Regions from separate parts of the Homo sapiens genome. Here region 1 is linked to region 2. Evidence: fine-mapped expression QTL. A gene starts in region 2. The other region holds a variant in brackets. All regions are shown on one strand. Distances are between the middles of the regions. Region 1 overlaps BCLAF1 (BCL2 associated transcription factor 1). Region 2 holds the start of BCLAF1 (BCL2 associated transcription factor 1).

Region 1 (13,841 bases), 36 kb before region 2:
CCTCTCTCAATTTCTTTTCACAAGCAAACTTTTCAAAAGAAGGTTGCTGATCCCACCTCCCTTCCTGATATTCTTCAAACTACTCCAACACAGTCCCATTCTCCACTTACAGAAATTCTTAAGGTCACCAATAACCTAATAGTGATAAACAAATGTTCAGCTGTTATCTTCAGTCTCTCGATTACTGATATTTAGAATGTTTCAATCACATCTAATGACATTTGCCATTATCGAAGTCCATGGCTTTAAATATCAAAACAAAGCAGATAACTCCCAAAACTGAATCTTTTTCTTTCCTACATACTAAAACCATATATATATCCAATTGTCTGAAGGATATTTCTACTTATATGTTCTAACATCACCTCTGACTCACCTCATCTCCATATTCAAACTAGTTTCTCATACTAAGATGCCCATTTATAATAATGGTACTATGATTCTTCAACTTACTTTTGCTTTAAAAAAATCTTAAATTATCCTTGACTACTTTCTTCTAATTCACCCCACCCGTCTTCCTTACAATCTCATATTACAGTTATCTTTATTGTTTCTTATTCCTCATATTTTAAGCATTATGAATACAACCATGTATTACTCCTCTGTATTACCTGCAGAAACAAGCATATTGTCTTAGATACAGCAGATTTTCAACAAGTAGATAAAATTTGATTTGCTTATGATATGGTTTGGCTGTGTCCCCACCCAAATCTCACCTTGAATTGTAATTATCCTCACGTGTCAAGGGTGGGGCCAGGTGAAGATAACTGAATCATGGGGGCAGCTTCTCCCATACTATGCTCGTGGTAGTGAATAAGTCTCATGAGATGTGATGGTTTTATAAACAGGAGTTCCCCTGCACAAGCTCTCTTGCCTGCCACCATGTAAAATGTGACTTTGCTACTCATTTGCCTTCAGCAATGATTGTGAGGCCTCCCCAGCCATGTGGAACTGTGAGTCAATTAAACCTCTTTCCTTTATAAATTACCCAGTCTCCGGTATGTCTTTATTAGCAGCATGAGAACAGACTAATACAGCTTATAATTCTCAGGCCTAAATCATCCTCTTTCCATTAGATTTATTCTGGATTTATTGAGCTTTAAATATTGAACTTGTTTATAAATTACCTTGAATAGAAGTTTTAATGTATCTGTGCAATAAATGTAATTCTGTGAAGCTCATGTCTATATTTTGCTTCCTTTGTATCTTCTGTTGGCATTTGTCCTATCAGGTAAATATGTTCTCAATAATCTTATCCCTCTTCTAACTCAAATCATCAAAGCTATACTATTACAAACTCACCTTTGTTCCAACTAAAAAGAAGCAACAACTTTGCCTTAAATCAAATGATTACATATAAGTCATTTTCAAAATGAAACCCAAGAACAAATACAACAGATCCATTCCAATCCAAAACGACATTTACCTGTTCTACAGGAACGCCAAAATATTCCAGCATCTCTCTTAAGATATTCAGTATGAGAGACATTGATGAAGCAAATACAGAAGCCAATTCAAAGGAACATTATCAGTTTCTTGGTGCCTTTGGGGAAAATTTTAGAAAATGTTACTCTTGACAAATAAATGCCAAATTGTACTACATAACCTGGAAAAGTCCTCTTGATACACGACACAGTCAACTAATTTCTCCTAGCCAGCATTCTTTTAAGTCAGAGAAAAAGAAAGGAAGGGGAAGTCTGGGGGAAAGAGAGGGTTGTAAAGGAAATTTCAATTAATTGGTTAGATTACATTAAAACCTCGTAGGATGTTTGAGCCTAGTTAATAGAGACCAATCAACAAACTGGACATCTACTTAGTAGGCAAGGCTTCAAGTTACATGCCACAGCGAAGCTCGCTCTTTCCTGAAAGCTTTGGGCTGAGACTCTTAGCAGATGGGTGAGTTTAGCCAACCCTTGAAAGCAGGCAAGGGACGACTCAGTTTTTAAAAAAATAAACAGTAGCTCTTCTCACACACATATCCTCACGTGTCAAGGGTGGGGCCAGGTGAAGATAACTGAATCATGGGGGCAGCTTCCCCCATACTATGCTCGTGGTAGTGAATAAGTCTCATGAGATGTGATGGTTTTATCAACAGGAGTTCCCCTGCACAAGCCCTCTTGCCTGCCACCATGTAAAATGTGACTTTGCTACTCATTTGCCTTCAGCAATGATTGTGAGGCCTCCCCAGCCATGTGGAATGCCCATCCCTCCTCACTCTTTTAAAATGAGAAGCATGAATTCCAGATACGGGACGTGACTTGGTCACCCATCTAGTAACAGGCCGTGACCAGAGCCGGATCGCGTCCCTCGCTTTGGTCACAAGCTTCCTGGTGCTCTCCAAACACAGCGTGGTAGCCTTGCTCACCTTCCTCCGAAGCCGAGCCCCCGGGAATCACCAGAACATCAAGCGGAGGGCGTTAGGAATCCTCAATCAAATTCCAGACTGCGCCACTCCTTGTGCAGATCGCTCAGACGTCTACCCAGACCTCGACCCAGTTTCCACCCGCGCGCCTCGGCTTGCAGCCACAGGCGGTAACGATGCCCTCAGCGAGGAATAAGAGGTCAACCCGGTGCCCAGCCCTGGAGCCTCACGCTCAGCCAGGGTAATGTTATGGGAAGCGCGCCCCCGTCCTCCTGCGCCCAACCAACCCACCTGCTAGTCCCTAGGACCGGACTGCTACTTCCGCATGACAGGACTGCTACTTCCGCATCCCAGGACGAAATCAAACTCCGCGGGCCAGGACCCGTAACCAGCCTCATTGGGCAAAACTGAAGATCGCTGCTTCTGATTGGTCATTGCATGATGTCAGGCAATTCGGGAAGCGACTGCTTTTCCTTCTCAAGAGGCGGGTCTTCCGAGAGTCAGCCAATAGGAGCTGACGGGCAGGGCAGGTCGCGTTAGGACAGCGTCGCTCCCGCAGGGCAAGGTTTTAGGTACAAACTCGTGAGCTGGACTCGCAGTCCGGAGTTCGTACCCCACAGAACTCTTCGCAGGGAGTGTCTTACTCGCTACAGCCGGACCCTAAGCGCATCCGCCTTCCCAAGTTCATCTGACACAAAATCGCGATTTATTTTTTGGTCATTTCATTTGTTCAGCTAATATTAAAATACTTGTGGAACTGGCAGAAGCCAAGCACTACCCCCGAGGGTTTTGCAGCTTTGCAGTGGCTAGGATTCATTCTTTCGTTCACTAAATACACCTACGTATCCAGGCTACCGAATATTGGGCCGGACACTCTCCTGGCTTAGCCGAGGATGGCAAGTGATATGACAGGTGATATCCCAGTTTTCATTTCTGATTTGAGGTTATTGGCTTCATACGAAATAGCTTCCTCTTCTGAATTTCAGCAAGACGTGCACTGGAGTGATATAACAATTTAAGATGTGTGCCTGCTACTGACATAATTTGAAAATCTAAGTTTTGAACTAATTTATCTATGGTCAACATCACTTATTCATTCAACCAATAATAGATATCTACTACGTAGCAGACACCATTCTAAGCACGGAAAATACCTTAATGAGAGGGCAGGTCCTCGTCCTCCTGGAGCTTACAGGCCAGCGGGGCATCTCGTTCCATTCTAACCCTAATTTGCTTTTCTCTATAGCACTTATCATATATATTTAGTTACGCTTCCACTACCACCAAACAAAATTGTAGACTCCAGGAGAACAGGAAGTTGTTTTGATCCATGCTCTATCTTTCCCCAGTGCTTTAGAAGAGTGTCTGGTATATAATAGGCATTCAGTCTATTTGTTGAATAAAATACCTAAATGTGGAATGACAGAAAAGATGATAATGATTTGGGACTAAGCAACTAGCAAAACAATTGATAGCAATAATAGTGATATGCCCAGTAGAGCTGGATACGGCTGAGTGAGCGCAGAACAAGGATGATGATGGATCAGAAACCCTAGATGGAGTAATTTTCTCAAGTTCCTTGTCCTTCCCTTTGCCCTTGTGAATAAATCACGACTTTATAACCCCCTCCCTTTCCCACTCTCTTATCAAACAGCAAACAGACAGGGCCAGAATGAAAACATCCCTCCAGAATGAGAACGGAACCACTACTCTTCCAGCTGCACTATTAACATAGGTTAATATTCCAACTGATTTAAGTAGCAAGGAGGACCCAGGTCAAATACTACATCCATAAATGCTTTGCTGACAACTTTCTTCTAAATTCTTCAGAGATATTTCTTCCAGTTTACTAAAGCATTCATAATTCCATTTTGACAAAAACATTTTATGTGATTGGACATCTTTTTCCATTGCTCATTTTTACACGAAATTAGATTTTCCTGAACTCTTAGAATGAGATAGGGTCCAAGAAAGCTTTTCTGACATCACAAAGCTAGCTTTTCTGTTGTCTCTGAGTAGTGTTCAAAAATATAGTGGCTTGCTTTCTGGAGTTTTCCTGTGTTCCCCTCCCCCAGTTTGATCCAGGTAGAAAACTTGCTATTCACAAGCTGCATGTTAACACTTTTTAAAGTATCTAGTTGTCAAGTATTAGCTCATTATATTGAATTAGCTCACTATATTGAGCTAGTAAGTCTATGTCCCTAAGATTTTTTACCTACTGACTCTGATTTCTGTCCTTTAAATATGTAACATGTTAAAATGAGGAGATCGGACAAGTATCAAATACCAGTCTCCTGATCCTATGTGATTTGAACATGTCTCTTCTCTAGCAAAGCCTTTTAAGGATTTGAACACAGCAATCAAGAACCTATCTTGGCTGGGAGCGGTGGCTCACGCCTGTAATCCCAGCAATTTTTAAGACAGCCCAGATTGTATTTGTTTCAAGCAGCAGCAGCAGACATAAAATTAAATCAAGCCTTTATAAATACGCAATTATCATTCTTTCATTTATACACACTCAAGGACCATTTATTACATAACTACAGTATGTATGCCATGCACAATACTAAATGCTAAAATTTTATTCTGGTGGAGACATGTAAATGGAATGAATTACTAGCCTAAAGGTATGTGCTGCATTCAGTGGCCCCTGAGCAAAAAGAGGAATTGGAAATTTTTTGCTAGGGTGTAAGACTTAAGATAGGTAAGTGAACAAGGAGTAGCATAAGGCAAAGTGGCCAAAAACAGTACATAGGGAGTTCCTACAGCTCATCATGACTGAGGTTCAGACAACAGGAAGACATCAATGCGTAAATTTTGGTTTTAAAATGACTGTAATTTTGCACTTGAAAAACATCCCAGAGATGGCAATATAAAGATGAAATTTATGGGTAGAGTCCAAGCTAAGAGACCAATGCAGCAGCTAGGGATAGTGATGAGCATCTATTATTGGGGGTTGAGGGGGGACGGCGGGGCGGCAGTGGAGAGAAGACAGAACACTTTATAGGGATGTCCAACTAGCTTAATGGATAAAGAACATAAGTTTGCAGTAGGATGGGGTACAGATGATGACAGTTTGGAGTGTTTAAGTTCCAGCAGAACTATCCAGGGAAGAGTTGGAGAGAAAAAATGGAGTTCAGGAGAGAAGTTTAAGAGGTAAATTTCAGAGTTACCAGCATCTAGATAAAAATGTTTGAAAACCTGTCATTCACAAAGTACTTCCATCCTTGTTCCTTCCACATACCAATGTTATTTACTATTATTTACTAATTTTTGCTTCCCTCCCCCCCCCTTTGTAAACTTAGCCAGAGACAGTAGCTGTGAAATGCTGGATTTGAAGTGCTAGAACATGTTTCACACTAACCTGAAATATGACAGCACCATGAAAACTCTTTATGGCTGTTCCAATTACTTTCAGGGCTTCATCTGAAATCTGTATTGCCTTTCTACTTCCTTTTAAACAATAGGTTGTTATCTTTTATCCTTTGGAATATCTGGAATATTCAAATGGTTTAAAATGGCAAGAGAACTTTGTATAATGGTAAGCTTGGAAATTTTGAATAAAAGTGGTATTTAAAATAATGTGAGGAAAGTTCGACATTGAAAATGAATAATTAGGCCGGGCGCAGTGGCTCACGCCTGTAATCCCAGCACTTAGGAAGGCTGAGGCGGGTGGATCATGAGGTCAAGAGATCAAGACCATCCTAGCCAACACGGTGAAACCGTCTCTACTAAAAATATAAAAATTAGCCTGCCGTGGTGGCCAGCGCGTGTAGTCCCAGTTATTTGGGAGGCTGAGGCAGGAGAATCACTTGAACCCGGGAGGTGGAGGTTGCAGTGAGCCAAGATTGTGCCACTGCACTCCAGCCTGGCGACAGAGCTAGACTCTGTCGCGAAAAAAAAAAAAAAAGACAATAATTAGCACTGAGAGGTTTAGTTTGATCACTTACACTTTTCTCCTACACCTTATCCTACTATACATAATACCTTATGCCAGAAACTCTTATTAGCTCAGGAGATGATCCATTTTTGTCTAAAATCCCTCTTATGTAAGGCAGTCATATTCCTTGATGAGCTTTAAACAATTTAGCACTGGGTTGGCATTATCAGGGGATTCTGAGGTATTAGATTTTCTCAGATGGATATTTAACCCTTTAGACAGCTGTCACACCTTAAAGCTTTTTCATCAAAATTTTTATTAAATATAACCACACATTTCCAACTAATCTTTTATGACTTAGGATTAACACTATGATATTGTGTTGTTCGGTTATGCAGTGATACTCCTAAACATTACTTAGCCAGGTGGGACTTACCTTGACTTTTCAACCCACTAGGGTATTTTAACTTTAGTTCTGCTGTCCTTTTCCTTAATGGCGACTGAGACTATCACAGGGCTTCTGCAAACGGTACATTCAAAACAGACTGTTGCTGTTATATATATGAAATTTATTACTGGGCAGTGTTGTTTGAGAACTATTTTTGAAATTTCTCCATAAAGGATCTGCTCCTTACCTGCTTTGTTGTATCAATACATCTCATTTTCAACTTATTCCCTCAGTGTAACACAGTGCAGGACTCACATTTGTCCAGGATACCAAAAAATTATGTTAAAAAAAGTCAACATACCATGTGTCTAAAATTTTTAGGCTTCCCAGTGTTTAGGAAAGAGGCAAGTCTAAATAGATGAACTCTGAATGAGAGACAGAGAACTTGATCCTCAAAAGTATCAAAGAGTTATTACAAGAATCCTGATTTGCATATTAATACCCCATTATTTGGAGCTAGCTCATTCAAAAACTAGAGCCTATGAATATATTATATAATGCAAGAAAATATTTTCACATATTATAGTGCAAGAATAAAAATGAGAAAAGGACAGAGCCTTATCTTGTTGCTGCTCTAGTGCCTAGCTCATACTTAACTAGTGAAACATAGAACTTTAAAACTGCAAGTTATATCCATGTGAACAGTTGCTTTAAGAATATACATCCTAATCCAATTACTCTGCTAGATATTCCTAATACCTGGAGCACTACCATATTCAGATAAGATGGTTTTAAGGCCTCTTATTATTACTGTTACACTCTGGCATCATGCCCTCAGCCACCAGAAAAAAATGTTGCAAGAAACACTCATTTGAAAACCTGTTCCTATTCTAGGAAGACTTATTCTAGGAACAGCAACATCTAAATGAAAACCTAAGGACAAGTATCTCAATATTTGGTAGCAGGAATAGTTATGCTTCCCAGAAGTGGTTTCATTTGACACTGAAAATTGCATACCTTATTTCCCTTTTTCATGTAGCTACTATTGGCCAATTCAAGCTCTGAATCTTTTTCCTTTAGTGACAGACTAGCCAAATACTTATTTCCTAAAGTGTTGCCCAAGTTGAGAATACAGAACAAAATCAAGATGTAATATTGTCCTGAGTGGGCCAGACAGCTAAATCTGTAACATGAGAAGCCATATGCTATTTTTCCCCCAATTCTCTGACCTCCCCACACCTCAACTAGAGCTTTACATACTAAAAGCTAAGATTCCAGAATCATTTTATATAACTCAGTTCTGTTAACTGAACCTTATCTTTTGTAAAGGACAAATATTCATGTTTATATAAATATGGAAGATTATCTTAAGGTTATATCAAGGGAAAGAAGTATACTTTGAAATCTAGAAAGGACTCCAAAAACAATGTGTTTTAGTTTTCCAGTAAGTCATGAATGGAACTGTTAATTTTTTCCTTTTAAATAAGCAGCCATCGATTTTTCACTCCAAGTTCTATCAGACTTTCATGACTTTTACATCCCATTTTCCAATTAAAAGTACAAATTAAGTTTTAAGTCATTTCTCCCAGCTGACAAATCCCCTTACTGCAGTATCTGAACACGATTACTCAAAAATCTGATTCCTCAGTTATATGCTGAGGTGGTATTACTCTACAAGTCTGTATCTTCAAGCCATTTGAATAGTATGCTGACATTAATCAGTTAATTACTGTAATCTTTTTTTTTTTGAGACAGAGCCTAGCTCTGTCACCCAGGCTGGAGTGCAGTGGCATCATCTCCGCTCACTGCAGCCTCCACCTCCCAGGTTCAAGTGATTGTGGTGCCTAAACCTCCCGAGTAGCTGGGATTACAGGCAAGTGCCATCAGCCCAGCTAATTTTTGTATTTTTAGTAGAGGCGGGGTTTCGCCATGTTGGCCAGGCTGGTCTCGAACTCCTGACCTCGGGTGATCTGTCCGTCTCAGACTCCCAAAGTGCTGGAATTACAGGCGTGAGCCACCACACACAGGCCTATCTTTTTTTAAAGTACATTTGGTAATGATATTCAACTTCTTCCAAAAACAATTCTGGAGTGGGGAAATCTTTTGGTAAGGTAAAAAATAAAAAATAAATTAAACCTGCAGGCTGGATATGTGAGAAGTAAATTAAAATTTAAAAATTCTGGCCAGGCACAGTGGCTCACGCCTATAATCCCAGCACTTTGGGAGGCCGAGAATTAGACTAGCCTGGCCAACATAGTGAAACCCCGTCTCTACTAAAAATACAAAAATTAGCTGGGTGTGGTGGTGCACACCTGTAATACCAGCTACTCAGTAAGCTGAGGTAGGAGAATCGCTTGCACCTGGGAGGCGGAGGTTGCAGTGAGCCGAGCTCGAGCCACTGCACTCTAGTCTGGGTAAGACTCCATCTCAATAAATAAATAAATAAATAAATAAATAAATAAATAAATAATTCAAAGTGCATTTAACATTCTTTTTCACGGCCACCTTACAAGTATCCTGAGAACTCAACAGAAAGTTTAGTTTTCCCTTCTAGTACAAATGAGACTGAAAAATTATTTTCCATAGTGAAGGACTCAAGGTAGCAAATAATCCACTATTCTGGAGGGTGAGTGGTATTTTTTATTTATTGTTGCTCTTCGCATTCCATGAAATTTGTAATCACTATGACAGTACCAAGCAAACACAGTTCAAGCTGTGATTATAAATCATTTCACACCACCTAAACATACAGTGTAGCTATGATCATGTACTTTTATTAAAGGCAGAGCTCATTATTAATGAAATCTGGAAGCTGGCCAACCCCAAAAGATTAAGAAAAATTCGATGTATATTCTTGGGGGAAAGGCATTAAAGCCTGCTCACCCAACCTTTTTCTATTTTCAAGAATATTACCTTCTGCACTTCATAAGTGCTACAAATCAGTTCACTGTGGTAAAACACCAAAAATATCCATAGGAAAAATTTTCCTATATACAGATTACAATTAAGACACATTATTTGAATGTTTCTAGTTGTGGTGGAATGCTATCCTAATAATGCCTGTTCTCTTTAATCAGTGAGATTCATTTTTAAAGGCCAAGGTATAGTCTAGTAACATAAAAAGAACTGGTACCCTTAATTAAATGTACAAGTTTGGTCTCATTACCATCATTGACACAAGTTAATCATTACTGCATGTTTCTAAAACAATAGGAGTCCAGCTCATAAATCAACACAATCTCTGTGGCTCTCAAGTCAATTAAATACAACTAGATTCCATATATTCCTGAATCCTAAGAAATGTAAAACTTGTTCATTTAAACTTCATTAGGACAGTGTACTAATTTTTAGTATCTACCCCAATAAAATTTGAAACATTTAATAATAGTATCAACTATTTGAGAACTCTAAACATGTAATGGATATTACTTTCTCATTTTAAGGC[T/G]CAAGAGATTGAGTCTAGCCAAATTAATCCCAATGACAATGAAGTTTATTCCTCCATTTGCCTTTCCTCTTCAACTCTGTAAATTGAGAAAGGCCTCTGAACTTCTCTTTCTGGATGTGAAAGTCTATTATTCCACAAGGAAACTTAAGGTACATCCCCACCAATGGGATTCCAGTTGAAACCCAGAAAAAGAAAAATAAGAAAAGTTAAACAAATGTTAATAATGCAGCATACTTTTATATAAGAAATTTGTATATAACATTACAATTATCCAGTATAATTAAGCTACCAATGATCTTACACAACACTTTACATGCATATGTATGTACACACAGAGTTATTTCTCTCACAGAATTTTTAAGGACTAATTTGCCATTTGTATGAGTCAAAATGTGTCAGTTTGTCTTAGTACACAAATTTCTGTGAAAATGCTTTGTTAAAACTGACAGGATGGCACATGGTAAGAATTATACCACATCTTACTTAAAGTGAATGAAAAGACAATTCTTTTTACTTATTTACTAGCTACTATGTTTTTAGAAAGAGAAGTAATCACCATATTATGGGTGATAAGGTCCCAGATTAACGTAAGAAAACGAGGACTAAACTGGACATCCAGAATTCCTTTATTTCAAAATAATTTTGGCTTAGATTTACCAACTGTAAAATTTCCCATTTTCCCAGGGGAGACAAGGGAAAAACAAAAACAAAAACAAAAACAAAAACAAAAACAAAAACAAGACAAAACAAAAAAACAGTAAAGAAAGGTTTGAGGGAGTTTATAAAGCATTTATCAAGCCTTACCACACCAGTAATCTTCCTAACAGATGCGCTGATATTCTAAAATAGGCCACAGAAATAAGATGTGTGAAATAGACACAGGTAAACAAACAACAGCAGTTATTACTTGTGACATTTTATTGGCGTATGACAATTTACAAGGGTCCCTGTTGCATCATTATACATCACACTGAGTAAGAATCGTTTAGCCATCTACATTCAATGTTACTGGGTAATATTTTTCTCAAATTATAATTCCCAACACTGATTTTACCTGTGACAAAAGGAACAATAGTAATTCCTTGAAGAAGACTAACTGGAAAAAACATTTTGCTTTTAGTATAAAAATTCCTAGGATGCTGAAAGGTACACATACACACCTAAAGAGTCATGGCCTTCTTAAACAGCTTTCTTAATCCTTTCTGGAAATATCCTTTGGTTCATTTTTATTGCCCCTCTCTAGGCAAAACAAAGTATGTTAACGCAGGTATCAGTGAGTTATTTCCTAGCACTTGTAAGCAAATATCCTTACCAAGAGGAACCATTCAACTTTTATAATATCGTAAAGCGTGGAGTTAAGATGTGTTTTTAAAAAATATACAGGCTTTTTATATGCTTGGATCTGAAAAAGGTAACATCCACAATGACATTCTATTACAGAGTTCTTACAATCACCCTAGCCTACTACACTCTGGTATAATACTCTTTCTTCAATTCTGTTTAACAGAATAAAAGTAACCAAAGGTTAAAGCAATGCATTTGAACTTAAAATATAACCTGCCCACAGGAATTAAGTAGTTTTATTCCCACTCCCTATTACATAATTTCTCAGATCCCCTTTTACCTATTGTCTTAAGTGGATAAGCACATAGTCATGCACACAGATTTGATGTCTAACCAAGTAACTGTTATGGTATTTATTTGTATACAATAAAAGGGTCATGAAAATTCTGTGTTGGGAATCACATCCATGTTGCTTTCACACGTAAATAAGTATTATTCTGAACAGGAGAATATTAGTTATGCCCTGATTAATGCAATACATACTTCCTTTGGCAGGTATTTCCTCTGCTTTAATAGACAATTTTAGAAAGACATGTTAACGGGGGAAAATCACACAATACTAAGGATCTGAGGGCCATAAACATCACATATGTTGAGTTTGCTTTTAGTTTTGTTTCCAACAGTTCTTAACCAATGTTCCTGGCTGTAATCTAGGTGCTAGACGCACTGCAAATCCTCGAAAGTGTTTAAGATGAAAGAGCAATACACTTAAGATCTTCAAAAGTTTACATTAACAGAATAAGCATTAGCTCCTTTTAACACACACACACAACTAAATTAACAAATGAAATGTGTCTACTTTTATATATGCCCATAAAGCAGACACTTAACATTGAAATTTACTATTTTAGATTTTCACTCCTTTAAGAGCTATCAATATAGACACAAAAGATAATTCACATTTGAAAAATTATCTACCTGAAGAATAGAACTCTTAAGAGGAAAAAGAAAAAGCCATTCTACAAAAACTGCAACTGAAATGGGGGGGAAAAAGGTTAGATCAATGCCGCAACAAGCTTCCTGCCAAAACTTTTATTGGTGACATTTGAAAAACAATTTTTTTAAAATACTATTAATGAACAGTATGCTGTGTTTCTCTATTTTTACTAATAGTTACACTACAAACTAATGTTCAGCTCAAATAAATATGTAAGATATGAAATCAGGTACTAATGTATCAACTTATTCTGCAGGATAGACCTCCTACATACCAACCCCAGGATTACAGTTTTTCTTCTGTTTAAAACTAGGATGTTCAGTAGAAATGGGGTTTCTATTTGCAGTATTGTTACAAACCAGTTTCCTCTCACAAATAGCTAATATCTAAGACCATGACTCAAACTATCAAATAGGAATAGAAAGAGAACACACAGTTTTGAACGCAAATAGAAAAGGCTCCTAAGAATGTTCTTTATAGGCCACTGCTTGCTTTCAGTAAAAATAACATTTTCTCAAAACTTTTCAATCTGATTTTTAATAGCTTGTACTTTTTAGCTATTGGCAAAGCTTTTTTTTTTTAATTCCTTCTTAAGCATTTGCTCAAGTGTTAAACTAGCTTAGTTTACCATAGTAACAACTTTTTGTCTGTGGTATACTTCAAAAATCAGTCACCCTACGATGTAGTGTGTTCAAATTAAACAGATGTATACAGTTAAAATAATTAGTGTAGTCTCTATAAACAATTTCTGTTCCAGGATTTATATGTAGAGCTAACGTTTACTTCAGAATAAAACATTGACAAACAGGGAAGGAAGAGAATCAGAACTTTCACAGAGCTGTACTTGACCATATCTTATAGACAAAGCAGAATTACAATGCATGTAACAAAAACGTTAAAAGTTTTAAAAGTTGATAGTTACAAATATGGTACGTAACAATTTTCTACTTTATTTCAGTACAATTTTCAACATACAGTCTACTATTTCTCAAGATATTTGAAGACTTAAAACAAAATTTCTATAGACTACTTGCAAACAGTAAAATTTAAGTAAAATGCTTACATTCTTATTTGAAAACAAAAATCAGGTAAAAAAAATGGTGGGTGCAAGTTCTGCTCTGTTGTAATCTTACTTCATATTTATTATTCCTAAAAGAGAGAGAAAAAATTAAAGATTAACAAAAGATGCGGAGAGTGAAAAGGAACCATATTAATAATTGTTCCTAAAAATGAAATAATTCACCCACCAAACCTATATCAAAAAAAATCTGTCAGAATCACAAGTTGAAATTTTATACCTTTTCTTCCTTGCGTCTGTCCTTCTTTTCTTCATTATTTTCCATGGTCTCTTCTTCATCTTCAACAATCCCATCCCCTTGGTATTTGTCATGAGTCCATTTAGGACTGCTACCTGATTTTTTGAAGTTAAAGCGCCCTCTGCCACGTTGAAAAGTACCACGACCTCTTCCTCTTTTGGCCCAATAA
Region 2 (15,279 bases):
ATTAAATAACCATTATTTACAATGCATATAATGGGCACTGCCATAAACTCTAATAAACGCACTTACAATTTCAGGGAAGGAAAAACTAATTCAGGAAATAGGAAACTTTTAACCGTAAAAGCTTAAAATTCAACTTTTTTGTAAACCACAATGCAGTAGCGTATCATGAAACTGACAGCATCTTTTTAACTACTTGAATTCTAATTTTAGTAATTTGAGCCTTAAAAAACATATGATATGTCGTTCCATCAGAAAATTCCAACGTAGCTAACATAATGCCATCTTGGTAGCGGGGCAAGGTAGCACAAGCCTGTAGTCCCAGCTACTTGGGAGGCTGATGCAGAAGGATCACTTGAGCCCAGGAGTTTGACACTGCAATGCACTGTGATCACACCTGTGACTAGCCTTGGCAACACACTCTAGCCTTGGCAACACAGCACGACCCCATCTCAAAAAAAAAAAAAAAAAAAAAAAAAAGGTAATCTGTAGTTAATTTTCATAATGCTCTACTTTATAACATCTAAAATATGAGTTTAATGCTCTGCTACTTATTCTCTTTTGGTACTTCCTTTCACACAATTTAGTTTCATGTGAAACTGATTTTTAAATCCACGTTAACAGCCATCATAGTAACTTTAAATTCTGTGCCTAAAAGCATCTTGATACGTCTACATTCAAATAAAAGAACAGTCAGCAATGAAACTTTTATCTACTGAAAGTCAATATTCTTCCTAAAATAATTTATCATTAATCTGTAAATAAACTTTGCACAAAATATTCAAGTTACCAATACTGAAAAGTTTAGCTTTATGTATATTCACATCAAGTATGTGCAAAGGATAGTCAAAAGCACCAGGCGAACAGAAACTAAGGAATACAAGATTAATATACATCAGCACTCAAAGAATTCATGAACAAGTTTAAATGGAAATCTGTAACTCTTACCAAGATCCAATTTTAAAAATAAAACGAGACTGGAAATACAAAGAAGAAATGGTAACATTAAACTGGTGAATCAAGAATAGCGTCTCCTAAAATATCCATGGCCCTCCAACTGGGGAGAGATTTGAGGTTCAGCCTAGGAAGGAGGAATCGGAACCTATTAAGGGAAACACTAAAAAAGTAGCAAAGTCAAAAAGCCAAGCAAGATTGGGTACAAAAACAAAGGATTTCTAAAGGACATATAAGTTTAGTTTTTAAAATATCAAAACCCCAAGTGGCCAGAGAAAAAAATGGCAATCTTCTAAACTGGAGTACTGTCATAAAACTATTCTGACCTGGAAAGTCATTACTACTGATTCACTCCTAGAAGTGGTACAAGGCTCATTTTAGCTAACACTTCCCTAAACAATTCCAAAAGGCTAATTTATATATATATATACATATATATGTGTGTGTGTGTGTATATATATATATATATATATATATATATCCAGAGAAGACCCAACTGCCAGATCTCTTTACTCCGTCATGGTATTTTGAAGTTCAAAGAAAATAAACACTAGATATAAAAAACTGACAGAACAGGGAATACAGGCTGTTAGACCAGTGGATATACATTCCTGTTCACAATCTATAAATATATTCAAGTATCCACACCAATAACTCAAATAATACACAAAATGTAACACACAATAAATAAGTCAGTATCAAAGACTGATTAGTTCAACTAATTTTTAAAAAATGAAAGTCTATATACAAAGCACAATGCTAATTACTATAGGAAATGTATCTATGTAAGTGGTCCCTGCCTTCCAAAAACCAAATCGAGAACAGTTATCAGCAACAAATCATAGTAAACTAAACATCTAAATACCAACCATGTGCCAAGAACTGTGCTAGGTGACTTAAAGTAAATAAAATAATGTCATATTTGATCCTGATAATCTCATGAGCTACATATTAATCCCATCTTTCAAATACAGAGAACCCTAAACTTTCCAGATAACTTGAGATAAGTGCCTTACATGCCAGGCACTACTATTCTAACGTTGGGAATACAGCATTTTAAGTTAAGACTTAAGCTCCCTACTCTCTTGAAGCTTTCAGAGAGGGGAAGACAGAAAACAAGGAAAAAATCAAATAGTGGCAAGTGCCACATTGGAGGGGGGGGAAAAGTACAAGTTAACATGCAGAGGAGGTGGGCAGGGGGACTACTTACTTAGGTGGATCCTTGGGCCCTCTTTAAGGAGGTAACATTTGGGCCTAAAGACAGGGAACACTGCAAAGATTCACAGAGGGAAGACCATACTAGGCAGAGGACACAAACTTAGCAAATTCAGGACAGAAAGACCAATAAGAAGGTTGAGACAACGTGATCAAGGAGTTGAGGGTATGAAATAGGGCAGCAGGAGGAGGAATGGACCAGATGAAATAGCATCTAGTAGATCATCAAAAGGGATCAGGATTTTACTCGGTTGAGAAACCCTTGCAGGGTTTTTGCTTGGGTGAGTCACTCATCTGATTTACATTTTAAGATGGCTGCTATATAAAAAATAAACAGCAATGAAAAAAAGAGGCAAATCCAAGATGTGGTTTGTCAAAATGACTTGTTAATGGATTGTTAGGGGTGTGAAGTACAGAGAGTGAGGAAAAATGAAAAATCACTAGTGCCCTTAAATTCTAGGTTTTAGATTCAAGCATCTGGGAGGACAAGTTTGGGGGAGAAAACAAAAGATGTGTTTGCCGTTTTTCGTGCCCACAGTCGGAGTGTAAATGGTTAATCCAAAATTTGACTGAAATCTCCTGACTCCAAATCCGGTGCTCTCTCTTCAATACCCTAAAAGGTGCTTGATGTTTCCAAAACCCAAATACAAAACTGAAAATGCCAAATTAATCTTCCCTTTATTACAACCAAGATCATTTGTTAATAGATTCCCACTTGTATACAGAAATAAGGAATAAATTGCCATATGTATCTTTAGCCAATTGACAGACCAACCAATGAGGAACACAGGATAAAATAAAGCAGGTTTTATTTTTAAAAATAAGGTTCTTAAATATCTAAACAGAGCCTATCTTTCATGAAATAATACATAATGACCAGCTAGAACATAAGTGATCAGAAACCAGCTAGAAAACAATTTATCAGGCCAGGAATGGTGGCTCACGCCTGTAATCCCAGCACTTTGGGAGGCCGAGGTGAGCGGATCCTGAGGTTAGGAGTTTGAGACCAGCCTGGCCAACATGGTGAAACCCCGTCTCTACTAAAAATACAAAAATCAGCCAGGCGTGGTGGTGCACGCCCATAGTCCCAAGGTACTCCAGAGGCTGAGGCAGGAGAATCACTTGAACCCAGGAGGCGGAGGTTGCAGTGAGCCAAGATTGCACCACTGCACTCCAGGCTGGGCAAGAGAGAGGCTGTCTCAAAAAAAGAAAAAAAATGATCAAGGTAACTGGGTTCAACAAAATACCCAAGACAAAGCCACCCAAAATGAATTCTTTAAGATTACTATTTCAAGCATACTTGATCCCAGTCTTCATTTTAGCAGGCTCAAGGAGTTTGGTCCCCAGATTGTTGTAAACAAAGTAATGCTATTTCCATCTTTTCAAATCCTAAAAATATAGCCCATGACTATTATTCCAGTAGTCTAGATTCAATTCCTGGCTCAGCCATTAACTAGCTGCCCAACACTGAACAAGTTACCTTCATCTGTCAGCTTCAAATTCTGCAGGTGTTTTTTTGTTGTTGTTGTTTTAAAGACTACTAATGGTACTTCCTTACAAGTACAGGGTTAAATGAACTAAGTAAGGCATGTAAACAGCTTAGTTTAATGTTTGGCCCGTGGTATACAATCTAGCATTAGCCATCATTATTGGTAACCCTTGTTTAGGCAGCCTTTCTGCAAGCTAACCACGTTTACTTAAAATGATTCTTGCATGTAAGGTTACCTAATATTTTTGATACAGCATTAATCAGCATCATTTAGAAGTCTTTCTAGACATGCTTAATAAAATGGGCTGGGTGCGGTGGCTTACACCTGTAATCCCAACACTTTGGGAGGGCGAGGCGGGCGGATCACCCGAGGTCAGGAGTTCGAGACCAGCCTGGCCAACATGCCAAAACCCCGTCTCTACTAAAAATATAAAAATTAGACGGGCGTGGTGGCAGGCGCCTGTAATCCCAGTTACTCTGGAGGCTGAGGCAGGAGAATCGCTTGAACCCATGAGGTGGAGGTTGCAGTGAGCCATGATCATGCCACTGCACTCCAGCCTGGGTGACAGAGCAAGACTCCATCTCAAAAACAGAAAAACTAGCCGGCCTTTGTGGTGTGCACCTGTAATCCCATGTAATCCCAGCTACTGGGGAGGCTGAAGCACAAGAATCACTTCAACCTGGGAGGCAGAGGTTGCAGTCAGCCAAGATCACGCCACTGCACACCAGCCTTGGCGACAGAGCAAGACTGTGTCTCAAGAAAAAAAAAAAAAATTAGCAGGACATGGTGGCGGGCCGGCGCCTGTAGTCCCAGCTACTTGGGAGGCTGAGATACGAGAATCGCTTGAACCAGGGAAGCGGAGGTTGCAGTGAGCCGAGATGGCGCCACTGCACTCCAGCCCGGGCTACAGAGCGAGTCTCTGTCTCAAAAAAATAAATAAATAAAATTAAAGTGTTTGAAAACTCTAAAATATTACACAAATATAATCTAGTATTATCTTCGTGTTAGTATATTCGTTGGTTTTCAGCCTTAGGGACAGTCAGATAAAATATTAAATGCTATGACTGAGGTAACACTTATTACCTGAGTATAAACAATTAACAAATTCATATCAAACAAGTACCCAGAGATTTTAGCTTCTTAATTCCCTCTTCTACTTATTTGGTAAATAACAAATCACTGTAAATTACACAGCTGAATTCAGCTAGTGTGCAACTACTGATTTCCAACGTAGTTTCCAGAAACTCCCAAACTAAGTCCTATGTAGAACTGATAAAACTTTTCTCCATTTCTAAGTCTTCTCATCACATAGTTAACCTCGTACAGCTTGCTGCCCACAAAAGTTGTTTAATAAATTCAACCGAGGCCAGGCGCAGGGGCTCATCCCTGTAATCCCAGCACTTTGGGTGGGCCAGGCGAGTGGATCACCTGAGGTCAGGAGTTCGAGACCAATATTGTGAAACTCCGTCTCTACTAAAAATACAAAAATTAGCCCGGTGTGGTGGCGGGCGCCTGTAGTCCCAGCTACTCGGGAGGCTGAGGCAGGAGAATCGCTTGGACCCGGAGACGGAGGCTGCAGTGAGCCGAGACTGGGCCACTGCACTCCTGCCTAGGCGACAGAGCGACATTCCGTCTCAAGAATCAGTCAATCAACCAGACCTGAGCCTACCAGTGAGTAGTACTTTTTACACGTCTGTCTTCAAGTCTTATACTACCACTGTTCCTCAAAGTCAAGAAGGGCTCTGGCTAAACAGCTTCCTTTGCCACCATTTTAATTATCTGAATTAAACAAGATATTTCAGTATTCACCACAATGTACTGGTTGAAACATGAAATCACTAAGAGAAGGTGCTCCAAGGTTGTTTACCATGAGCTACCTTTTTTAAGTGACAAGGTCTCGCTCTGTTGCCCCCGCTGGAGTGCAGTGGGACGAGCACAGCTCACAGCAGCCTCAAACTCCCGCCGAGGGGCCACTTTTTCCCTCCCATCAAATTACCTATCCTGAATTGGTCATGATCAAACAAAAATACAAAAGCCTTGTAGCAGTTTTTCCTACGTAAAGGTTATTTACTGCCTGAACAGTATCCTAACCATTCCAACTAAAGTCGAACTGAAATGAGAATTCACAAGAGGAACAAGAAATTTTGTTTTGCTTTGTAACACCAAAAAATTTAAAAGAGGCTGTTGCAGTGAGGTACAAGTCTGAAGTAGCTCATCTTTTTCGTCAGTGTTAGCCACACTTGCTTTCAACTTCAGTCTTAATTTGTTTCCAGTTCTAAAATGCTTTTTAAAAAAGTCTGAGGTAGCAAAGTAGCTGCTGGTACTTCAGCTTGATTCTGAAGAAATAAATCTTAAAAGCGAATCAAGCCAACTCATGAATTTAAAATGAAGGCAAAGTCCAATTCGCCACTCCCACCCATTTCTCACACCAGCTGTCCACCAATCGTGGCTGCAACATTTCTGACACGACTAAATGGGCTGAATCACTTGAAAAGACTCGGCTTCGCTAGTACTCATGAAGAACCGCACTTTCAGCCGGATGGGGCAGGGCCACGCTCAGAACCACCAGCTAAGACCCAATCCTCTCGCTAGGGAACCGTAACTAGGCAACCAGCACCAGTCAACAGCGCGCGCTCGCTTCAAAACAGCAGGTTGCCGCGGGTACCGAAATTAACTCCAGAGAACCAGGGTCAGCAGCGAGAGGCAGAACAGAGCACTAAAACCTAGTAGCATCACAAAAACGAGGCATTAACTGACGGGTGGTCTGAAGCCGGAGGGCAGTTTTAAAGACCACGCGAAAAGGGGTAGACCTACTCAACGCACTTTGCTGCGGGTCACAGTTATTTTCTCAAAACCCCACAGGCCACGAAGAAAGGTGGCAGTCCCAGCCAATGAGAGGCGGACACAAGTTGCACCTCCAGCGGCCGTCGGCGCCATAGGCGGGGGAGAGAAAAATGAACGAGCGCGCGTGCGCGGAGCGTTCAGTCGGGCGCGCGCAGAGGTACGGGCTGAAGAAATGGGGGAAGGGTGGAAGAGGAAGATATGCGCACGCGCACGGGAGGCCGCGCGGGCTGTGGGTCTCCAGGCAGGTTCGCAAACACGCGCGCGCCCGCCGTTAGCACTGCTCAGCGCCCCCGCCCGGCCTTTTCGGCCCGTAGTGCCTCGAAAACCTGAGAGAAGCTAACGAAAAAACGCATAAATAACGGCGCAACGTCTCCTTGGTTCTCCTTTCGCCGCCAACCCGACACCACCCACAAAAGAGTCAAAAATATGGCCTGTCCTCGGTCTTCACTGCCCCTGGAGTAACTTGAATACATTGCGAGGCCTACCTGACACGCCGAATCGCGGTTCCGGGAATTTATCTCCGTTGCAACCACACAGCGGCCATTTCCCGACTCAAGAACGCGAGGAAAACCATAGAGCTACCTTCGACGCGCTAGCACGTCTCCGTCACTTCCGATCTGGGGCGTGGCCTCGGGTGCCGCTAAATATGCGGGCAAGCCCCGCCCACCCTTCCGCTCCGGTCCGGCTTCCTGGCTGCTATTAAGATGTTGCCTGCGGCCTTCTGGGAAGTCGCGTGGCTGGTCTCGCGGGAAGATGTGACGGCTCCGCCCTCTGGCCCGTAGCGTCAGCCTTGGCCGGAGAGGCGGTAGAGTAGGGTGGGTGTTTTGTCAGGCCTGAGTTAGCTTCGCCATACGGCGCTTTTCGCTGGTGTCTCTGCCTCGTTCTGAGTAGACCCCCTAGACCTCACCGCCGCCCCTGCGTTTTACCTCAGTAAGCTCGTCTGGTCTGTTCTTTCTGTGGGGCCGGCTCAGACCAGGCAAAAAACAAAAAGACAATCCCACACTGAGGAAAAGACCAGGAGGCAAGACGTGGCTGTAATTGCAGACACGCTGCTCCCTCAGCCAGCAAGCGCCACTTTTCCTCTTGGACGCCTAACTGGAGATTAGAAAATGTGGCTTTTGGTTTGCTATTAAATTCGGCAGACGCACTTAGTTGAAAAATGGCCACGATCTAAATCCCTTTCGTGGCGTCTGATCAAATCGGAGCTCAAGCCGCAGCAGCCGGAAACCTCTTAGGCTGCTCGTGCCAAAGAAGGCCGCCCTTCTGGCGGCGTGATGACAGCTTTACCACATCGGCAACGTTGGCATAGGCATGAAAAAATAAAGAGCACGAAGCAGTTGAGCTTTCAGCCTGTGACGATGATTTGTGGCAGCCGAGGAACACAGCCCAACGTAGCTTGGTTGTCCAGAATTATAAGTCAGATTATAAATAGGCAAGCCACATTCGATTTGAATAGAATTTAAATAACAGCCGTAGCACATTTTGCATTAATACTTCTCCGGGCTGCACTTTCTTAGGGCCTAAAACCGCTATTGCTTTGATGTTTAGAGATGTTAACTACCTTGATGGATTTCAGACTTGTAATTAGCAACCAGGGTGTCAGTGAGTGAATCGAAACTAGGATTGGGCCCTGGTTGTGAATTTAACACTGTGCTTAGAGCATTCTTTCTTCACAGTCCAGTTTACCAGCTGAACTAGAAAAACGACAACATTTTCATGGAGTGAATCGTAGGTTTTTTATTGTACAGTCTGTCCCTCACCCCATTACCACCTCAGGATGTGGACACAGAAATCCTTGGCCTTTTTGTTGTGCCCTGATGTCCCAAGCATTCGCAGGTTCTCAGAAATATTTGTTGAGTGAATGAACTATATTTAAAAAAAAAACAACTAAGGGCTCAATACACGTCTGCTATTCTGCATGTATTGGGAGTCGGGGCGCTCCCAATACATGCTGTTATTCATTTATTCAAAATACCCCAAATTGCAGGCTAGGATATTATCTTCGACCTCCCTCTGCAATTCTATTGCACATGTGTTGAAAATGAAGTATCTATTTGAGGCAATATAACTGATTATGATTTTATTTACATAACATGAGGTAGTAACAAAGGAGATCCTTTGGAACAAAGCCTTTAGTAAGTGGAAGTTATACAGACTTCCCTTGAAATAGATCCATTTGATACGTGATGCTTTCCCAATCTACAAAGTAGGAGGTTCTTGAATTTAGATGTTTTATGCACATTCTTATTTTCAAAACCTGAAATTCCACCATTACAGATTCATTCTTTGTAATAAATTTTTTTCCTATTAAAATACAAACGCCGAAAAGAGCAGAGGAAAAAAGAGCCCATTTAACAAATGAGCATTGCAGAAAAATAGAACATTATCTCAAGAAGAAATACAAGTTGTAAACAAATGACCAAACTGCTAAAAAGGTACAAAGAGAATGCTGAGATAAATTAGTAAGCTGATTTTAATTTTAAAAAAAAAAAAAAAACAGAGTCTCGCTCTGTCGCCCAGGCTGGAGTGCAGTGGCGCGATCTCGGCTCACTGTAACCTCCGCACCCCCAGGTTCAAGCAAGTCTCCTGCCTCAGCCTCCCAGGTAGCTGGGGTTACAGGCTCCCGCCACCAAGCCTAGCTAATGTTTGTATTTTCAATAGAGACAGTGTTTCACCATGTTGGCCAGGCTCGTCCCAAAGTCCCGGCCTCAAGTGATGCGCCCGCCTCAGCCTCCCAAAGTGTTGGGATTACAGGCGTGAGCCACCGCGCCCGGCAAGGTAATTTTAATTTATGGTCATGGAGAAGTTATTGTTAATACGATTATAAAACTCTTTCTTGAAAGATATTGCTTCTGTTTTGGTTTGATTTTAATTTAAGATAATTGAAAAAGAGAAATGGGCCAGACGCTGTGGCTCACGCCTGTAGTCCCAGCACTTTGGGAAGCCGACACGGGCGGATCACTTGAGGTCTGGAGTTCGAGACCTGCCTGGCCAATATGGTGAAACTCCGTCTCTTCTAAAAATACAAAAATTAGCCGGGCTTGGTGGTGGGCACTTGTAGTCCCAGCTACTTAGGAGGCTGAGGCAGGAGAATCGCTTGGACCCGGCAGGTGGCGGTTGCAGTAAGCCGAGATCACACCACTGCACTCCAGCCTAGGCGACGGATCAAGACTGTATTTCAAAAAGAAAGAAAGAAAGAAAGAAAATGAAAAAAGAAATGGAGACAAGAAAAGGAAAAAGAGAAATGGAGAAGAATGGATATGTGAAAAGGACAAAGATAAGAAGATAGGAATGAGGATGGGGTTGGAAGTCTAGCAGGAAGGCAAGCTCCAAGACCTGACTGGTTTTGCTTGGTTTGTTTTGTTTATCTTTTTAGATGGAACATCTGAACTATTTCCGTATTTGGGGAAATTGAAGCTGAAGTGGTATTTGGAGTCTCACTCTTCCCACTCCCTGAAAATACTGGCATTGGGAACCCAACAGTAGTAGTGGGAAGCAGGCAGCAGAGGAAACGTGACCAACAGAGATTCCCTAACTAGAGTGCTGATGGGGCCGGACTTTGGCTGTAGTTCCTGCTGCATGGCCTCCATTTGTGCATATCCCTCTACAGGCTTTGTGCTAATTTCTTTTTTTAATTTTAAGTGATAAAATGTTCATTGATTCTTTGAGCTAGCTGGTATCCTTCCAGTAAATTTCTTTTCCTGATGAGTTAATCAGAATTGGTTTCTTTTGTTTGCTAAGAACCCTGAACTCCATGTCACAGTTTTGAGTAGAAGCAGGTCCTATTTATGAGGTCAGTTTTCCAAATGATCTGGCATTTTTTTAGATCTGTACCAGTGAAATAAATGGTTCCCCTTGTCTAGACTATTTCATTCCTACTGGTGAACAAATTGACTAGGATATTTTCCTTATTTTTCTATCCCCTTTTACATACTAAGAATGTAGAGTTATTTATTTTATTTAAAATATTTTAATTTTATTTTTTCAATTTTAATTATTTTGGTTTAAAATTACCAAAATTATTTAAGAATTATGTATTTACAGTGTTGTTCCTTAATATTCATCTCACCATTTTGAAAAAAAATTGAAATATCAAAATGAGCCAGGTATGGTGGCTCACACCTATAATCCCAGCACTTTGGGAGGCTGAGGTAGGAGGATCACTTGAGCCAAGAATTTGAGACCAACCTAGGCAATATGTGAGACCTTGTCTGTTCGAAAAATTTAAATATTTGGATTTTTTTGTTGTTGTTTTTTGGTTTTGGGTTTTTTTCTTTTTGAGACGGAGCCTTGCTCTGTTGCCCAGGCTGGAGTGCAGTGGCGGGATCTCGGCTCACTACAATCTCCGCCTCCCAGGTTCAAGCAGTTCTCTGCCTCAGCCTCCCAAGTAGCTGGGGTTACAGGCGTGCACCACCATGCCCAGCTAATTTTTGTATTTTTAGTAGAGACAGGGTTTTACCATCTTGGCCAGGCTGGTCTTGAACTCCTGACCTCGTGATCCACCTGCCTCGGCCTCCCAAAGTGCTGGGATTACAAGCGTGAGCCACCGCGCCCAGCCGAAAATTTTAAATATTAACCTAGTGTGGTGGTTCCCACTTGTAATCCCAGCTACTCAGGAGGCTGAGTTAGGAGGATTGCTTGAGCCTGGGAGGCGGAGGCCACAGTAAGCCAAGATTGTGCCACTGCACTCCTGCCTGGGCAACAGAGCGAGACTCTGTCTCAAACAAACAAACAGAAAAATATCAAAATGTGACTGTTAACTATTGTTTCTAAGTTCTATCAAGATTAATGCGCATCTTTCTCAGAAAGATGGAAAAAACAAATAGAACATTAAATTCTTTCAAAGTTTTCATAAGAAATCTTTGCCCAGAAATTATGCCAGCTTGCTGTTTAATGTAACTATTGAAGAACAAAGAGGGAACCCCCCCTAAAATGGGGCAACAGAATCATGATGGGATTCATACCCAGAAATCATTTCTTCCTTAGGAGAGGTTATAAGAGTTACAGAACAACTCCTTCTTTTAAAGCAGTTATCCAGTTGCCAACAAATATCTCTGTTTGCCCCCTGAAAAGTCTGAAAGCTCAGTTCTACCCAGACAATTTATCTCACAGAAGGCTAAAATCACCTAAGCAAAGGGCTGCAACCAATGATGATATTTAAAAGTAGTGAAATACAGAGCATAGAGTATTGCAGGTAGGAGTGAGATAGGCTGAAATTTCAGCCTCATTGCTTATTTTAAAAGAACTAAGAATTAAGCCTGGCCTGGAGAGGGAGTCACCGTTGATATTGACAAGCCCTAATGCCGGTTTTCTTAAAGTGTAAAACAGAAGCCAACTCATGAGAATAACCTAGGTTGTTTAAGAGAACTGAGTCTCATTACACATTTATTGAGGCAGAATCTGTGGGGGTAAGGATACACACTAAAGTTTTAGAACCACTGATTTATTGAAGACCTGTCATATTCTAGATATTACAGACCAGACCAAGGGTCTCCAACTCCCAGACCAGTCCACACAGAAGGAGGTGAACATCAGTCCAGCGAAGCTTCATGTATATTTACAGCCACTCCCCATCACTTGCATTACCATCTGAGCTCTTCCTCCTGTCACATCAGTGGTGGCCTTAGACTCATAGGAGCGTGAACCCTATTGTGAACTGCGAGTGCAAGGGATCTAGGTTGCAGGCTGCTTGTGAGAATCTAAGGTCTGATGATCTGTCACTGTCTCCCATCATGCCAACATGTGATCATCTAGTTGCAGGAAAACAAGCTCAGGGCTCCCATTGATTCTACATTATGGTGAGTTGTATAATTATTTCATTATATATTACAACATAATAATAGTAGAAATAAAATGCACAATAAATGTAATGCACTTAAATCATCCTAAAACCATCCTACCGCCCTCAGTCTATGAAAAAATTGTCTTCCACAAAACCGGTCCCTGGTTCCAAAAAGGTTGGAGACCACTGTTACAGACTACAAAGCAGTATGAGACATCGTTGCTGCTTCTCTGTTGTAACTCAAAATCCAGCAGAGAGAGGGTGTAACTCTCACATCAGATCTACATGGGAGCAAGTGCCTATGGTGAAAGAGGGAAAGAACTAGCATTTTAAAAATGAGTGGGATTTCACCCGTCATTTATTCATTTGTTTATTTAGTCAGCAAATATGCCTGAAGCATGTGCCATTTGTAGGTACTGAGCCAGGTGCTCAGGATGGAGCAGTGATGAAGCCTAACGCTGACACTGCTCCCAGGTAGACTGCCTCTCTGTGAGGGAGACAGAACACACGTAAGCAGACACAAATTGTACTATCAATCAGGACGTGATAGAAAATCAAAGAAGGAGACCTTATTTATCTATTTATTTATTTAACTTTTAAGTTCAGGAGTACAAGTGCAGATTTGTTACGCAGGTAAACTTGCATCCTGGGGGGTTGTTGTAAAGGTTATTTCATCACCAAGGTATTAAGCCTAGTACCCATTAGTTGTTTTTACTCATCCTCTTCCTCCTCCCACCCTCACCTTCCTAAAGGCCCTAGCATGTGTTCTTCCCCTCAGCGTGTCCATGTATGTGTTCTCATCATTTAGCTCCCACTTATAAGTGAGAACATGTATTTGGTTTACTGTTGCTGTGTTAGTTTGCTAGGGATAATGGCCTCCAGCTCCATCCCTGTTCCTGTAAAAGACATGATCTCATTATTTTTTTATGGCTGCATAGTATTCTGTGGTGTATATGTACCACATTTTCTTTATCCAGTTCATCACTGATGGACATTTAGGTTGATTCCATGTCTTTGCTACTGTGACTAGTGCTGCAATGAACATATGTGTGCATGTTCTCTTTATAATAGAACAATTTGTATTTATTTGGGTATATACCCAGTAATGGCATTGCTGGGTCAAATATTTCTTTTTTTTTTTTTCTTTTTTATATTCGAGATGGAGTCTCGCTCTGTTGCCCAGGCTGGAGTGCAGTGGCGCGATCTCGGCTCACTGCAATCTCTGCCTCCCAGGTTCAAATGATTCTCCTGCCTCAGCCTCCTGAGTAGCTGGGACTATAGGTGCGCACCACCACGCCTGGCTAATTTTTGTATTTTTAGTAGAGATGGGGTTTCACCATATTGGTCTTGAACTCCTGACCTCATGATCCACCCACCTCGGCCTCCCAGAGTGCTGGGATTACAGGTGTGAACCACTGTGCCCTGCCTGGGTCAAATATTTCTGTTTTTAGATCTTTGAGGAATCACCACACTGCCTTCCACAATGGCTGAACTAATTTACACTCTCACCAACAGTATATCGAATTTCTTTTTCTTCACAACCTCGCCAGCATCTGGTATTTTTTTGACTTTTTAAGAGTAGCCATTCTGACTGGTATGAGATGATATCTCATTGTGGTTTTTATTTGCTTTTCTCTAATGATCCGTGATTTTTTTTTTCTGTTTTTTTGTTTTTTTGGTTTTTTTGAGACAGAGTCTCCCACTATCGCCAGGCTGGAGTGCAGTGGCACGATCTCAGCTCACTGCAACCTCCGCTTCCCGGGTTCAAGCGATTCTCCTGCCTCAGCCCCCCGAGTAGCTGAGACTACAGGCGCGCACCACCACGCCCGGCTAATTTTTGTATTTTTAGTAGAGACTGGGTTTCCCCATGTTAGCCAGGATGGTCTTGACCTCTTGATCCACCCGCCTCGGCCTCCCAAAGTGCTGGGATTACAGGTGTGAGCCACAGCGCCCGGCCTGATACCATTATAATAATTGGAAAGATTAGAGAGAATGATAGGGAAGGGAAGAATGAAACAGATTGGGAAAAGGGAAGGAAATCAGGAATTCCATTTTGAATATATTAGGCTTGATATGTGTGTGAAACTTTTAAGTACAGAGGCAAGGTATGAAGTTAAATGTGTGCATCCGTGGTTCAGAGGTGAGTTCTAGCCAAGAGATAAAGCAAAAAGATTATATTTAGAATTATTGGATGAGGCTTGGCGCATTGGCTCACACCTGTAATCCCAACAATTTGGGATGCCAAGGCAGGAGAATGGCTTGAGCCTAGGACTTCAAGACCAGCCTGGGCAACATAGGGAGACCCCGTCTCTATTAAAAGTTTAAAAATTGGTTGGGTGTGGTGGTGCACAACTGTAGTCCCATCTACTTGGAAGGCTGAGGCAGGAGGATTTCTAGAGCCCAGGATGTTGAGACTGCAGTGAGCCATGATTGCACCACTGCACTCCAGCATGGGTGACAGAGCGAGACCCTTTCTAAAAAAAAATAAAATAAAATAAGATAAAATCACAGGATGAGAAATATAGGGAGACAAGAGAAGACAGCCTAGGAGTGAACCCTAAAGAATCCCAACATTTAGAGATTTGTTAAAAGAGGAGGCGGAGCCAATAAAGGAGACTGAGAACAGCCTATGAAGTAGGAAATAAGTGAAATCAAATGTATTGGTTGTCTACTGCTGCGTAATGAATGACCCCAAATTTACCAGCTTAATGTTTACTATCTCACAGCTCCTGTGGATCAGAAATCTGAGAGTGATTATTTGGGTGGTTCTGGCTTAGGGTCCCTTGAAGTTGCACTCCAGCCTGGGTGACATAGGGAGACTATCTCTAAAAATAAATAAATAAGTCATTTTAAAAATCTCATTTAAAAATTTATCTATCTATGTAGAAACAGAAGAATCAACCTCAAAATGATACTGTTCTGTGTATATATTGAATGGCCACATCACTGGCAATTTTTAAAACATTTTCTTCCTTTGCTCTTCTGTATTTTCTAAAA

Evidence for each region. PIP is the estimated chance that this variant, and not a neighbour inherited with it, causes the effect.
Region 1: its variant is fine-mapped to the expression of BCLAF1 in whole blood (TOPMed, PIP 0.97).

What each region holds. Positions count from the first base shown.
Region 1 is chr6:136,247,611-136,261,451 of GRCh38, forward strand. BCLAF1 (BCL2 associated transcription factor 1) reads right to left here. Exons shown (of 13, transcript NM_014739.3): 12 at 13,655-13,841; 13 at 9,017-13,505. The coding sequence ends at 13,500. It overlaps MTFR2 (mitochondrial fission regulator 2), which reads right to left and starts at 2,701. Exons shown (of 8, transcript NM_001099286.3): 1 at 2,366-2,701; 2 at 1,427-1,543. The coding sequence starts at 1,489. RefSeq lists enhancers at 2,151-2,370, 3,021-3,170. The variant T/G (reference allele first, on the strand shown) is at 10,076.
Region 2 is chr6:136,282,728-136,298,006 of GRCh38, forward strand. BCLAF1 (BCL2 associated transcription factor 1) reads right to left here and starts at 7,119. Exons shown (of 13, transcript NM_014739.3): 1 at 6,986-7,119. It overlaps LOC124901408 (a long non-coding RNA gene), which reads left to right and starts at 7,287. Exons shown (of 4, transcript XR_007059784.1): 1 at 7,287-7,430; 2 at 11,969-12,298. RefSeq lists enhancers at 5,913-6,509, 6,035-6,154, 6,510-7,106, 6,525-6,644, 6,591-7,790 and 2 more.